Linked DNA regions of Homo sapiens. The protein of the gene in region 4 purifies or fractionates together with the protein of the main gene of each other region. This does not show direct contact. Each region holds a gene or a part of one and is shown on either strand. Other genes may lie near its edges.

Region 1 (3,783 bases), on a different chromosome or scaffold from region 4:
CGCTTACAAGGTCCCTGCATAGGTGCCCTCCGGCCTCCGGGCCGCGGCCGCCGGCGTCTGGGGCCTGCTGGGGCCGCCCCCGCCCTGCTCAAAGGGCTGTGGGGGGCTCTGGCCATCGGCGGGCAGCGGCTCGGGGGCGGCCACCTCCTGGATGACCGAGCCAGCCCCGTCCACCTCCTCGCCGGCGTCGAAGGCGGGGTTGGCGGCGGCACTCAGGTCAACATTCACGGCGTCAGTTCTCAGAGCCACGATGGTGGCGGCGTCGCCCCGCCGCTCGGCGTAGATGCGTTGCTCGAACACCTGTGCCGCGGCAGGCGGGAACTCGGGGTCGAGGGGCACGCTGGCGGCGGCGGAGCCCATGACCGTGCGGTACATCTCCACGCCCTCCGGCAGCATGGACTTGATCTTGGGCAGCCAGCGCTTGCGAACGCGGCGGGCGTTGGTGCACATGTCCGCGGCGATCACGTTCATCTCGCTCTCCTTGAAGCTGGGGGCGAAGTTCTGACAGTACACTGTGAGGACGGGGCGGCGTGAGCTCAGCCACCTGCCTGCCGGGAGGCCCGCCCCTCCCCAAGGCCACAGAACCATGATGCCCTGGATGAGCCTCCCCGGCCGCTCCTGGGGCCCATGTGACCACCTGGGGCTCTCCTGGCCTCAGCCAGAAGACCAGAGGTCACGTTTCTCACTGCTCGGCCTGGGAGGCCTCCCCACCCCATTCCTCTGGAACAGTCTCTGGCCTGGTCAGGCCCAGCAGCCTTGGCCGTCCGCCAGCTGTGAGGCTCAGGCCTGTTTTTAATCTCTCCGGGCTTCCGTAGCCCCAACGGCTAACGGGAACTGGTCAGAGGGTCCCCCTTTCGGGAATAACACACCCCTCCCCGTCCCAGTCCCAGCCTGGAGGAGGGGAGTGACAGAAGCCATCACTTCAGCAACACTCGCCTCCTTTCTCTGGCAGGAGCCCAGGCCAAGGCCGGGTCATTCCTCCCAACGGCATCAAACCCAGAGGCAGGTCCCAGGGGCCACGTCCACCTCGGTCCCTCCCAGAATCTTCCCAGAGCCTCGGCTGCCACCCCACACTTGGGGACTGTAATTCCTGGCTGCAAAGGCCCCTTTTTGCTCTAAAACAGAATTTGCCTCACAAGGTTTTTTTTTTTTTTTTTTTTTCTTTTTTTTAGGAAGAAAACAAGATAGTGCTTCTTGGGCCGAGGGCCACAGGAGGCTGTGCTCTTGGCCACCTGGTGCGAGCCGGCAGCAGTCAGCATCTTCCACATCTGGGGCGCGGGCCGGGGGCGGCGGTCTGCCCTGGAGATGGACCGGGCTCCGCCCCCACACGCCCAAGAGCGGGAGGCAGAAGCCGGCCGAACAGATGGCAAAGGCTCAAAATAACCGCAAAATGTAAATAAGGGGTTTTGTTCAAAAAGGAAAATTAGATCTATTTCACATATTAAAATAGTTTCGCAGCTGAATTCATCACACTTGGAAACCTACCAAGAACGTTAACACCTCGAGACCTGGCTTCTGAGAGCTGCTCTTTTCTCCTCATCTTCCCCTCAATCAGACCATGCTCGGCCCCCAGGGACGGAAGCTGCAGGTGGCCGGGAGCACCCCCGCGGCCCACCCAGTCCTCCTCAGGCTGGGATCTGAACCCAGCCCCGGCCCCACCCACCCGAGAGACCCCCAGGCTCTTACATTTCACAGCGTTCAGGACCCGGCTGTCCAGCGGCTTCCGGCTGGGGTCGCTGGTGGACGAGCGGATGCCAGTCCCGCAGCTGTTGGCCAGCGTGTTCCTGGTGGAGGGACCGGAAAGGCAGGCAGGGTGAGGATGATGGGGAGGGTACCTGGAGGCGACCCGCCCGCACGAATGCCCTGCTGGGAGGCCACTTGGCCTCACCCTTGGCTGGTCTGCGTGTGTCCCAGTGGCAGGAGCCGGCCCAGCCACCCTCTAAGGGACAGGACAAAGGAAAAGCGTCTGGGCTGAGAAGATGACCGGGTGATGGGGCTGCAAGGTGACCTGAGCCTTGTCCTCAGGGACTCCGGGGACGTCTGAGGAAGCCGCTGTGTCCTCGGGAAGGGTTCTGTTGGCCCATCAGCACAACAGAATAAGTGTGGCTCTTCATTTTTCTGTTGTGGGGGTTGCATCCACAAGCCCGTTTGAGAAAGGCCACGAAAGACAGCCCCTCCCTCCCTCCCTGGGAGCCTCTCCACCGTCCTGGGGCCGACCGGCCACGGCTGAAGTCAGGAATGCGAGAGGGCTTTCAATGCCACAACCCTGGACGATCAGACAGCTCATAGCTAAAGGAGCCAGAACCCTCCGCAGCTCCATTGTGCCCTCCAGCACTCCTGCCCCGACCTACCTGTCAAAGAAGGTGGCCAGGAGCCTCCGCAGCAAGACCTTATGCTTCACCCCTGCACACAGGTGGCAGTTCATCAGCTGGCCGCGTGTGATGTAGACCCCAGAGCCTGCAGCCACCAAACAGAAAAAGGGCTCGTGGCCTTCCCGGGCCATAGGGTCCGAAGAGGCGCACAGATGGGTGAGGGGGAGGGGGGGAGGTGGAGGGGGAGGAGGAGCTGGAAGCTTCTAGGACTTTTTTTGGGGAGGAGCAATTTGAGGTCCCACCTGCTGGTCACCAGGAGAGGCCATGGCCAAGGCCAGCCCCAGCAGGTCCCAAATCACACATGGAACTAAGCAGGGGGTGGGGAAAGCCACAGCGCCCCCCACCCTCCCCAACGAGCCCCAAACTCCAAGCTCTCCCGGCCATGCTGCGGTCCCCGGCCTCAGCTCCCTCCCCAAGAACACACTTTGTTGTTGTTTAGAGACGGGGTCTTGCTCTGTTGCCCAGGCTGGAGAGCAGTGGTGCCATCATGGCTCACTGTAGCCTCGACCTCCCGGGCTCCAGTGATCCTCCCACCTCAGCCCCCTGAGTAGCCGGGACCACAGGCGCCACCACCATGCCCAGTTAATTTTGATGAAGTCTCCCTATGTTGCCCAGACTGGTCTTGAACACCTGGCCTCAAGCAATCTTCCCACTTCGGCCTCCCAAAGTGCTGGGATTACAGGAGGAGGGGCACTGCACCTGGCCTAGGGAACACACTCTGAAGGGCTGGCTGTGGCCCTGGGTTTGGGAAACACTCATGTCTTTGCCTTTCTGCTCCGTCCCAGATACCAGAGAGCCCTCAGGCAACGATGAGGGAGACGGAATCCCCTGGCTGGAGGGTATGGCTGGAGCTTTGCAGGGCCCAGTGCTGACCTCCTCTGGGTATGTGTGAAGAGGAAAACCAGCTAGGGCAGAGGCGTGGCCAGAGAGGTCCACGCTGTGCTGTTTACCCTCGGAAACTTGACCACACCCCAGGTGTCCCACCAGGGTCTGGGTGAGCGAGGGCATGGACAAGCAGCAGGACTGAACCCTCTGGGAACAATGGGGAGGGAATGCTTTCTGGGGGCAGCCAGTCTCAATGACCATGAGATGTCATGTCCTGAAGGACACGATGTCCAGGTGCGCCTGCTTCCAGGAGCCTGTGAGTGCCCATGACCTCTTCCTGCCATGGCCCGTCTCCTGCCCCACCACTCCCACAGGCCCTTCCTGCCAGGGTCTGGGCTGGAGGAACTCTCCTGAGGAGCTCATAAACTGAAGCACGTCTCCAATCCCATCAGCCCCACACCCCAAACAGAGGCCACAGCTGCTGGAGGCTGGGATGACCGAGAGCATCTTCCTGGGACCACACCTATGTGAAGCACCAGGGCCCGCGTGGGCACCTGCGCCCCAGAGCCCAACCCCAGGGGCCCAC
Region 2 (2,851 bases), on a different chromosome or scaffold from region 4:
GATGAAAATTCAGATGCTCTGTTCTGAATAGGGTTCCCTTGCCAAATTCAGTATCTCTATTTAATCCAGACTTTCAAACATAATTGAAAGAAAAAAAAAACACCCACACATCCAAATCAGGCCAGCATTAACTGAATCCTGAGTTTAAGTCCTTATTTACAACTTTCTCATATTCTAACTCAACATACTGAAAACTGAAGTGACTACCTTCCTCACAAAGCAGTGACCTCTCAATTTCCAGTTTGGACATTACTAGGATCCTAATCATTTAAGCCTAAAACTGTAAACTTTAACAATTCCTTATCTATCACCACTCCTACCATTAATCTAACCATTTACTGAATTCTGACAATTTTCTCTCTCCTAAATCTTTCAATTACTTGCTTAAACCTAACTCTTTTAAATTTGCGATTATATAATCAGAGGCAAACTAACTCTTCCAGTCTTGTCTCACTGCTCCCCTACACACGGCTACACTTTACGTAAATAGAAAGGCCCACAATTCCTGTAAGTTTGTCTCTTGCTTTCCCATCTCTGTACCTTTGTATCTACTATTTCTTCCCTGTGAAATGCCCACATCCAGGGATGGTGTCATGATTCCAGGGCCCAGTGCAGAATGAAAATGTGGAAGTCCTTGTTGAAAAAGTGAAATAAAAGGTTCTCTCTGTTAAAGGTACTAAAATATAAAACAGTTCACTTTTTCCTGTGTATCTCTTCTGTTCAGGCACATGCTCTATTGTCCTACAGGACTTTGCTTACAACATTCAAACTCAAATATAAAATTATTAAGGATAATTTTATTATCAGGATATTATCAGGATAATGATAGCAGAACACTAAACGAAACACAAGCTAGGGCCATATGTGACTGCAGGGGTCACATGCCCACAAACAGCTTTGAACTCATCCCCTTCTGGGCCTTTCTCAATCCTGCCCACCTTCAAAATCAAGTGAAAGGCTTCTGCTGGGTGGATGAGGAAGTGTCCATGCTCTGAGCCTCTGGTCTGCTCTGCCCCAGGATGGCCAAAGTGGCTCCCTCATAGCACTTTGTAGACTTCCCTGAGAATGCCTTTTATCTCCTATTAGTTTATAAGTTTCCTAAGAGAAAGGGCTACAACTTCATTCATCCTGGAATCACCACATGAGTTACATATAATAATTGCTTAATACATGTTTGCTGAAAATGAATACAAGAGAACAAAGCAGAAAGCACTGCTATTTTGAAGCCACATGCAACATTTCCTCGAACTGCATTCTTTTTGGAGCAGATATCACTACTAATGCAAAAGTCCAAGTTCTCCAGCTGGCTAACTGGTGGTGTCTTGTTTTCCTTTTCAGTTTTTAAATTAATCTTTCTATCAATCTTTTTAAGGACATTCCCCTTTAGAGATTATTATTGAATGTTAATAATGGATATATTTGATAGTCTCTAAAATGTATGAATTCACTAATTTATTCAGATTTATAAGCCTATGTTTTCAACTTTTAGAAATTACTTCGAAGAAGAAAAAAGGAACTCTTTTGGAAACACTTTCTACAGATTTTAGTTAAAAAATAACTTATGGTACTGCTTTTCACAGTGGCTTTTGAAAAATTCTGTACATTTAAACAGGTTATCAAAGATCTTCATGGAACTTCTTTGATAAAGAAGTTGAACCATTCAATAAGAACCTTAGACTTCCACCACTGGCTGAATTCTGTAATACCCTAAGAACCGTCATCCAATTCACACCCCTCCCACACAGACACACATATCCATCTTTTCATATAATATTTTGAGTTGAAAACTGAGAAAGCTCATTTGTGCTTGTGGCATAAGCTGCTTTTTAAAAAACACAATAAAATTGAATAAATTTAAACAGCAAAACATTAATTTAAAAAAATGCACCACGGACACTGCATCACTAAGAAAGCCAGTAACTTTACTGAATTGTCTGCAAAATACAAATTATACCTTATTTCCAGCAGGAGAAACTTTTGAAAATTTCCCACTTTTATTCACTACAGACAGCTGAATTAAGTCCCTTGAGATACACAGATGTGGTTTAACTTAGTTATAACATCTTGTCATCTAGTGGCGACAAAGTCCAGCTTATGCCGCTGTGAGCCTCTATTTGAATATTTGTTGCAAATGCTTGTATGCCCTCATTTACAAGCGATTTTAATTACTCTCATTTAATGGAAACAAGTCCCCAGGAAAAGAAAAAGAAGAAAAATGATACAGCAAACCATCTGAAGCAATCCAAGTCCTATGCCTACAGTGACCCAGGTCTACTTTGCTCGAAGAGAACACTGGTACTGCATTCAAACCACAACAGAATCCGTCACTTAACTGACCTCTCTGAATTAAACTGAGGTATGAATCAATTTGAGGTATGAACAGGGAAGGCAAAATGCAATACCAGATTATGAAAATAACCAAAATGGAAAAATTTGATGTAGAAGATATGTGGCTTGGATTGCTCCACATCTTTGGTTAAAACATATTAAGAAAAGCCTTTAATTACATCTGTAGTCTGAAGCATTCTAACAGACACCAGTATTCCAGCAATCTTCAAAAGATCTGTAGTGGCAGGAAATTAACGCCATAAAAGTGACGACATCACGGCAGATGGCACAAATGAGAACAGATGAAGTATGCCATGCTTAGGCAACAGCCTTTATTGAGGGTTCAAGTGGCTTCTTCTTCTTTAAAAAAAATGTTTTTTAAAGAAAGAACTACAAAGCGTTTACTCTCTGGAGAAACAAACAACAAAATAAAGAGGGCAAAAAATGCTATCTCTAAGTTAAAAGATGGGTATGTAAGAAAAACAAATCCATAAAAGTGTGTGAGGGCAGACATTCTTTTAAA
Region 3 (3,783 bases), on a different chromosome or scaffold from region 4:
GCTCCTTTGAGAATCTCAAACAGCCAGAACCATCCCGTCCCACGGACTGCCAGGCGCCAGGACGGCTTCCTGGTGCCTCTTTCTCGACCATTTTCACTTAAAAGCACTGTGAGTAGAATTAGCTGTGCCGTTGCTGCCACAAGGGAGGCAGCCTGGTCAAGAGGCGTGGTTTGGGATGCAATAAGGCCACTGCTTCTTGGCCACTTTCCTGGACATTTTCAATCCTGCCTTTCCTGGGTCCTCGGAGCAGCTGGTCAGGATGGGCTTCCCACTCAGTCCACGAGCCTGGGGCCGGCTCAGGGTGGTCCCGGCGACCTCAGTCCTCCGTGTCGGGCTGGACGCCCAGGATGGCGTGCAGTTCCTCGGGCGTGAACCCCAGCAAGTTCTGGAGGTCGCACACGAAGCGGTACACGTAGCGCTTCCCCGACGTCTTGTGGATGATGTTCTTGTCGTAATAGTAGCGTAAGCCCCGGCTCAGCTTCTCGTAGTTCATCTTGGGCTTATTTTTCCTCTTTCCCCACCGGCGGGCCACCTTTGGTGAACATGGATGGAAAAGAGTTAAACTCAATTTGTCAATGAAGAAAAAGTGAATGACATTCCTCCCTGATTATGATTCTGAGGCATGTTCACTCTAGAGAGAACTTGACACCTACACAAGGTCCGCAGGAGGACCTTTTGAGTACCTCTGAGTACCTTTGAGTACCTATGGTAGGGGCACTGTGTCCCCAAGGGGCAGAACCACTGGGGAATGAGGTCCCTGCTCCCTGGCCCCAGCTCAGTGAAACCTCCTGGGAGCCAAGGGTTCAGAGCCAGGAGGGTCCTGAGACCAGGGAAAGGTGGTGTCACCCACCCTCCAGGCTGGATATTCCAACTACTGAAGTTAACAGGTGCCGAGTGGGATTCTGAGCTGTGTGATATACTCATTCCTCAATGCTTGTCTCCCAAGGGAACTGGAGGCGGGGTGGGAATGGTGACAGATTACGCTCCCCAGTGCCAGAGACCAAGGGCTTCTCTCTAACGCTTTTCTGGCGGGGTTGGTATCCCACCTGCCCTTGGCCTTCTCCTTTAGACAGGGCTCCTGGTTCTAACTCTGCAGGGCTGGGGTCAACACTGCTGGGCTCAGCTAAGGAGTGGACAGAAGGCTGGCTCGGGGCCACATGAGGCTTGTTCCCCCGATGGACAAGGGCAGCCTTCCTAAGGCATTTTCAGATGGTCAGCAGAGAACCTCAGTTTGCAGCTTGGGCCTCTTGATCAGACAACTGATCAAGACAGTGAAATCTGTGCAACGCCCTTGTATGAAGCATACCCAGAAAACACTGTACACGTTTATCAACAAAGCAATGACTCCACTTCCATTTTCCCAACAGCCAAGGATGCCTCACGTGGAAAGATTCTCAGCAGTACTGGTGAACCCTTTTTTGTGCCCAAAGAACTGAGTTTTTGAATGCAAGCAGGAAATCAGGTTTTCAAGCCCAGAGATTTCCCAGGGCTCTGGCCATACCTCATCGGGGTCGGCGAGCTTAAACTCCCATCCGTCTCCAGTCCAGCTGATGAATGACTGGCAGGATTTGTCTGATAGCAGCTCCAGGAGAAACTGCCACAGCTGAATAGGTCCACTTCCTGCGGGGAGAGGGAGGGAGACGGATCATACCCTTTCACAGATGTAAAATACAGCAAGTCTTTAACCATCCTAATTGTACATGCTGATTTAGGAATGCAGACCCAACTCTCTGAATGGGGTTCCGATGTTACACTCAGGGTGGCACTCAAGGTGTTGGTGACAGTACTAAGTGCTTTAACGGGATGGGGCGGGGCACCAAATGTGAGTTCCTGCTCCACACTGCCTACTCCTAGAAAATAAGGTCACTAGGCGAGACACTCTTCCCCTTGATTGCTAGGTTTGTTCTTTCTGGAAGAAAGTTTAGGGCCACCAACTCTTGGCATTAAAATTCCCCATCTGGTTTAATTGTTCCTTATGTAAAAACCTTCAAGGTTTTTTTCTAGAAACACCCAGTGGGGCAGAGATGGGGGTGGCTGAGGGGGTGTTTCATCACAGAATGAGGCGTGTCATACGTGGGATCCCATGCCACCTTCCTGCCAAATGACCATGTGTAAATTGCTTAATGTGAGCCCGGTTTACTCAATAGCCACGCGGGGTCACACCCGTTGCCTCACAGCCTCTGTCTGGTGAAGCATGCTTTGCCAAGAGCTTCTCGTCCACCTGTCCTCGATTGACATTTAGAACTACCACCTTGCAAAGCAGGTGTCAGTGTGGTTCTGTTCTAAAGAGGAGGGATAAGATGCGGCTCAGAGGCCAGGTGCCTTGTCCTGGATCACACGCCCATCACAGCAAACAGGAGAAGAGCCTAGATCTTCCGACCCTAAGCCCAACCTCTTTCTACCAAATAGCTCTTCCTCAGAAACGCAATGGCCGTTATCAATAAAGCTTTGCTGTAAAGCACGGGACAGGCATTCTAGAACCAGAGCTGTGTGAGCACCGATAGCTGTCTGCCTGTGAGCCAATTTCCCCATCTGTAAAATGGCCTCATACCACCCCCATGCCAGGCTGTCCTACAGACTGTATGCCTACTTAACTACAGAGTTGGCAGTCAATAAACAGAAACTTATGTTACTATTAAAATGAACCACACTAACGTTATGGCTGTTTATTCTTCTCAGGCCCTAAACTCCCAATAATGAAACCGATAATGGCTTTCACACACTCTTTCCGTGTATTTTAATACGTTTACGTGGCTGATTGTTCTTAGATGACAGAAAAAGAATGAATGCCTCAGTATCCTTATTTTAAACTTATCAGATTTTTTTAAGTTAGGTAATTTCAATCCACAGTGGCTCCATATGGTTAAAAAAACAAAAACAAAAACGCATTTAAGGATACACGAAGCAGTGAAAACAAAGCCCCAGTATTTTCGCTAAAGTACTGGAAATACCTGTTTCTAAAAACAGCTTTATATTTGTCCACTGCCTAGAATAGCTCTCACCCAAACCTCAAAAATAAGAGCAGATAGATTTTAGAAGCAAGAAAAGGTAAACAGTGCCCATATTATTTGAGACTGGCTCTGCTGCCCCTCCCTAAGCCAGTTTACATTCTTTGAGATTCTTGGAGTGGGTGAGTCAGGGCTGAAGACTGCACAGGCCATGTCCCCTGCTCCAACTATTCCTCAGAACGTCCCAGGTGGAGGGAGTGGCCTGTCAATTTTCACTCATTCCATGGAGCTCTGTGTACATGAAAATTCCTCCAAGTGTGGCTTTTGTCGAATTCAGAGATACAGCAAGCCACGCATAAAACATGGAGTGTAGAGCACTGGTGTACCTAGCTTAGAAACACCCTCGGTGAATGTGGTACTGTGGCTCGAAAGGAAGCAAGGGACAGGACCCAGGAGACTGGGCGGCCAGGCTCTCGGAGTTCCACACACACCTGTGAAGCCGGCCAGCACAGCTGCAGGTATAACTGGTTTGCCTTGCTCCACTGGGTCACTCCTCTCTTGGATGTAATCCTTGAAAGACATGGTTGGCTTATTGAGGCAGAGAGACTGGCTGCAGTCATCTTCGAAGCTCTCGAAGGAAGGAACCCGTTGCACATCCAGCAAGGACGACTGGCTGTTCCAGGACTGGAGGAGGGAGTCTGAGCTCTCGAAGCTGTCCGCACCGTTCTCAGGGGAGTCGTGGTCTTTGGGAGTCCCTGGCAAAGACAACCAAACACATACTTTGATTCCTCCAGGACACAGTTGGTCTTGGGCACGACCATAGCATCACCAACCA
Region 4 (4,215 bases):
AATAAATAGGCTCCTTATAGATCATCAGCTCTCCCACTAACTGTGTAATTATCTATTATATTTTCAAGGGCTTTTTTCCAAACAAGCTCTTGGCACTGTTTTTATTTATTTATTACATGTATTGCATTTTATTTTTCTATAATCTTTAATGGTTACCTATGGCTGATTCTCTAAGTTTTGAGGAGTGCGATTATTTTTAAATGAATTTTAAATGTTCCTACTAAATTCTAGCAGCATCATATCTACTGGTATTTGTTTTCAGTAATTTTCTGGAGGGCAGTCTTAACGATAATTAAAGTGACATTTTCCTTAAACACGGCTCAATGTGTGTGTTTTTAAAAAGATGACATTCCTCATCTGTTTGTTCTTATTTCAGATGTGCTATAAACCATGAATGAGGTAAAGCATAAATGGAAGTAACTAATGGAAGCTCATTATTTAGGCAGCAAAAACCAGAATTAATGTATTACCCCACTGTAGCGTTTAGTACTCAGCCAATCCAAACTTTCCTAGAGAAATATGTGATTGAGACACTTTCCATCTGTTTTTGACAAAGACAGGAGAAGATTCCCACAAGTTATTTTCTGCTGAAAATTATTTTTTAAAAACTATACAATTATCATTATCTCAGGAGGCTCTGCAGCTACAGAATTTTCAGTGACACCAAAATAAAAGCTAAAAAAATGAAATAAAACCCACCTGTGCTGGATCAGCTTTTCGTGGCCTCAGCAACAACATTCGCAGATATTATAGAACCACATAAAAAAAGAAATAGATATGTTTGGGAGAATAGGCGGCCGGGTGCTCTTGATTAATCTAAATTCCTTCTGTGTGAAGTAGAGTCTTTTATAAAAACATCGCAAGATGTGCGAGGAACTAAAACATACTAAGGGGGAAGGATTTTTAACTCGGCCCCAGCAAAAAGAACTCTGTGCCCCTCCATGGCCCTGGATGGCGGATGAGAGAGGGGCTCGCCTGCTCACAGAGCCTAAGGACGGCGCCTCCGTGGCTCGAGCTTGTCTAAAGGGACTTGGAAGGTGTCTGGTGAAAAGGACCCGGTGCAGGACGCCCTAATCGCTCTTCCAGAGGAAACCAGAACTTGGAGTGCTCCTGGCAGCTGTGTCCCCCGAGCCTTCTCCTCGCGCAGGGCCCGGCGCGCACAGCCTCCCTGTCCCCCAGACCCGTTTCCCAGCCTGGACCCCTCGCCCATCCCTGCGGGGCTGGATGGGCGGGGCCCCTCCCGGGTACTCCAGGGTCAAGGTTGGGACTCAGGGCTCCCAGTTCCTAGGTCAGCTCCACCTGCCTGCGGGCGCCCTGGGGCTCCGCGCGGCTGCGTCGGACCCGCCTGCCTCAGCGCTCCAGGCTCTGCGCTCTCGGCCCAGGGCCCTTCTCGGGCACACCCGGCCCTGTGGCTGCTCTGGCCCCGAAGCGCAGGGCAGTTTCCTCCCGTCCTCCCCAGGCAAACCCTGGAGCCGCAGGCCCGCACCTCTACGCCCACTGGGCAGGCCAGGGCGCCGACGGCCGGGGACCCCAGGCGCGAGCAGCTGGGTAGATCTGAGTGTCCGCCCGACGGACGCGCTCTACCCTTGCCCAGGAAGAAAGCGAAGCCATTCGCCCGGCAACACCCGGCTCGGGCAGCTTCGCGGGCGGCCTGCGCTGCGGCGGACGCAAAGGGCAGCTGGTCCTCATATCCCAGTCCCCAGCCGGCCCCAGGAGGTTTTTCTGATGCTCGCTCCTTCCACCGCCAACCACGGACACCCACACACCACCGAGAATGAAAACTGCGACCATCTGTCTAAGTATCTTCAGAACCCGCCGGGGGAGTCACCGGTCCGCCGGTTCCCAACTGACACCCTCGCGTGGAAGTCTGCACTCAGGGGTGTCCCTGGGACTGTGAGCGTCCCGCCCGCCCGCCTTCCTTGCTAAGAGGAAAAGCGCACGGCATCCAAGCCCCCGCGGCCCGCGGGGCCTCGCCGAGGAGACACGAGCAGGCCCCAATGCCCCTGCGCCCCTGCCGCCCGCCCCCCGCAGCGGAGGGCGCCCGTCGCGCGCGCAGCACCTACCCTGGCGCGCCGGTCCGGAGGTGGGTGGCGCGGCGCTAGTGGGAGGCGGACATGGACCACGCGCCCTCCATGCGCCACACGGAGAAGGCGTAGCTGAGGCGCTCGTGGGCCACGTAGCTGCAGCTGGTCATCTTATTGTCCATCTCGTCGCTCTGCAGGACCTGGTAGAGGAAGTCTATGTACCTGGCGGCCAGCTTGAGCGTCTGGATCTTGCTCAGCTTGTCAGAGGGCAGCGTGGGGATGATCTTGCGCAGCGCCGCGAAGGCCTCGTTGAGCGACTGGGTGCGCTGGCGCTCGCGCACGTTGGCCAGGATGCGCTGGCTCTGCAGCTCCTCGAAGGACTGCGCGCTGGGGCTGCCCTTCTTGCCGCGCTTGCCCGGGGTCGGGCTGCCATCTTCGCTCGACTTCTTGCTGTAGCGCCGCTTCCGGCCGAAGCGCTTGGGCTGCCTCTCGAGCTCCTCCTCGCTGGTGCCCAGGCTGTCCACGGGGGACACGGGCGAGCTGGAGCCCTCCTCCATGGCGCCCGCCCGGCGCGCGTGGGGCTGGGGGCGCCGGGGCGCCGAGCGCGCGCCGCTGGCCAAGCCCGCGGTCGCCGAGCACACGCTCTCGGAGTTGCTGGAAAGGCTCTGATTTCAAGGCCGGCTTGTGCAAAACCGAGGTCTCCGGGAGAGGAAGTTATTCTAACTTTTTTGGAAACTCTAGCTGGGCTGGGTTGCTAAATAGTTGTCAGGAGCTAGGGCGGCGCGCTGATTGGCCGCGGTGGCCGGGGGCAGGACAAGTTCTGGGGCCTTCGCCGGCCGCCCCCGCCCCCCGGCGCGGCACTTTCAGTTTTGCCTCCCCCTTCGGCCCCGGCGCGGAGGGCATCCCGGGGGCCGGGTCCTCGCCCGCCGCCCGCGCCCCCACCCCGAACGCAGGGCACTCTCAGGCCGCCCCGAGCCCTAGGCCCGGCCAAGCCTGGCTTTGTCTACGCCTCAACGTAGAGATCGGCCCCCACTGGGCTTTGGGGGGTTCTCTCTCTGGGCGTGAGGGGCTAGAGAGGCGAGTCCAGTCCCAGATGCGCTCCCAGAAGATGAGGACGCAGCCAGGAGCCTCCTCGACCTGTGTGGGTCTTGGCCGCCCCCGGGCGCACAGCTAGTCTGCACCGCGGCCCGCAAGCTTAGGCCTGGGGTCTGGGGAGCTGCGCGGGCAGGGGTCTCGGTGTCCGGACCGCCAGTGTAAGGACAGTCGGGGCCCCCTGGAGACGCCCGTGCCCAAGGACATGCCGCCAAGATCCGTGGAGATGCCACCCTTCGGCCAGCGTGCGTGTCGGGGACCATTTCTTACCCTGGCTTGCTGGGGAGCCCCGGCCCCGACGCCCTTCCCGAACCTTCCTTCTAACAGCTTTAAAACAACGCCACAGCGAGCCTCTGCGGGAGCGCCCGGTACCCGCCGCGCCCGCCTGCCTGGCCCTACCCGGGTTGCTGGGCGCGGGTTGGGGCGCCTGCCGGCCCGCCTTGTACGGCCCCAGCCTCTGCGCTCCGCCTTCGCTTCGCGGGTCAGCAGAGGACGGAGGGCGCTCCGGGAGCTGCACGAGGCTGCCCCGGGCCCAGCCTCCGCTGCGCTGGCAGCCCGCGGGCAGCTCCGAGCAGGAGGCTCAGGGTGGCTGGAGTGTGGGGCCCGGCCTCGGTGAGCGACACCACGGACCCCGGCCCCGGGCCATCTGGACGGCGAGCGCGAGCGCGTTTGAAGTGGTTGGGGGGCTCTTTGTTCGCCAGGCCGCTCTGGCTCTGGGCCTGGAGGTGGTTTTTACGGCTTTGATGCCTTTGAACCTATTCCCAGGTGACCCGGGCTCAATTAGGCCCGGGCCTGAGCCGGGCTGTCAGGCAAGCCGCGTGATCAAGGGCGGGCTGGGCCCTTTTATTGAAGTTGAACCCGAGACCGGGGAGTGCTCGGCCTCCGCTGCTCCTCCGGCCGGCCAGGCGGGCCGCGAGGTGGGGCCCGCGGGCCACGACCACCGCGTTGGGAAACCCGAGGACGGCAAAGAGCGGGCCCTTCGCGCCCCTGTCCGAGGGCCCTGGCTCCGGCCGTTCTAGGGGACGTTTTACCAACAATCCGTCCAGGAAGGCAGAACGCCTAGGAGCGGGCCCTCGCATGCATGTGAGTCGGTAGCAGC

What was found. Proteins that work in one complex are often made in the same cells at the same time.
Region 1: the proteins of TWIST2 (region 4) and NACC2 purify together in Homo sapiens (affinity purification with mass spectrometry; one large-scale study listed by BioGRID and IntAct). This does not show direct contact.
Region 2: the proteins of TWIST2 (region 4) and MEF2C purify together in Homo sapiens (affinity purification with western blotting, with the first as the bait; one study listed by BioGRID). This does not show direct contact.
Region 3: the proteins of TWIST2 (region 4) and ETS2 purify together in Homo sapiens (affinity purification with western blotting; one study listed by BioGRID and IntAct). This does not show direct contact.

What each region holds. Positions count from the first base shown.
Region 1 is NC_000009.12:136,011,513-136,015,295, forward strand, and holds part of NACC2 (nucleus accumbens-associated protein 2), read right to left. Parts: intron 3,255-3,783; exon of another isoform or gene 3,001-3,254; intron 2,458-3,000; coding exon 2,352-2,457; intron 1,785-2,351; coding exon 1,687-1,784; intron 513-1,686; coding exon 4-512; 3' UTR 1-3.
Region 2 is NC_000005.10:88,716,340-88,719,190, forward strand, and holds the end of MEF2C (myocyte-specific enhancer factor 2C), read right to left. Parts: 3' UTR 778-2,851; downstream 1-777. UniProt on the Homo sapiens protein: Transcription activator which binds specifically to the MEF2 element present in the regulatory regions of many muscle-specific genes. Controls cardiac morphogenesis and myogenesis, and is also involved in vascular development.
Region 3 is NC_000021.9:38,819,423-38,823,205, reverse strand, and holds part of ETS2 (protein C-ets-2), read right to left. Parts: intron 3,704-3,783; coding exon 3,440-3,703; intron 1,621-3,439; coding exon 1,502-1,620; intron 533-1,501; coding exon 317-532; 3' UTR 1-316. UniProt on the Homo sapiens protein: Transcription factor activating transcription. Binds specifically the DNA GGAA/T core motif (Ets-binding site or EBS) in gene promoters and stimulates transcription.
Region 4 is NC_000002.12:238,846,582-238,850,796, reverse strand, and holds the start of TWIST2 (twist-related protein 2), read right to left. Parts: upstream 2,713-4,215; 5' UTR 2,582-2,712; coding exon 2,099-2,581; 3' UTR 2,064-2,098; exon of another isoform or gene 700-2,063; intron 1-699. UniProt on the Homo sapiens protein: Binds to the E-box consensus sequence 5'-CANNTG-3' as a heterodimer and inhibits transcriptional activation by MYOD1, MYOG, MEF2A and MEF2C. Also represses expression of pro-inflammatory cytokines such as TNFA and IL1B.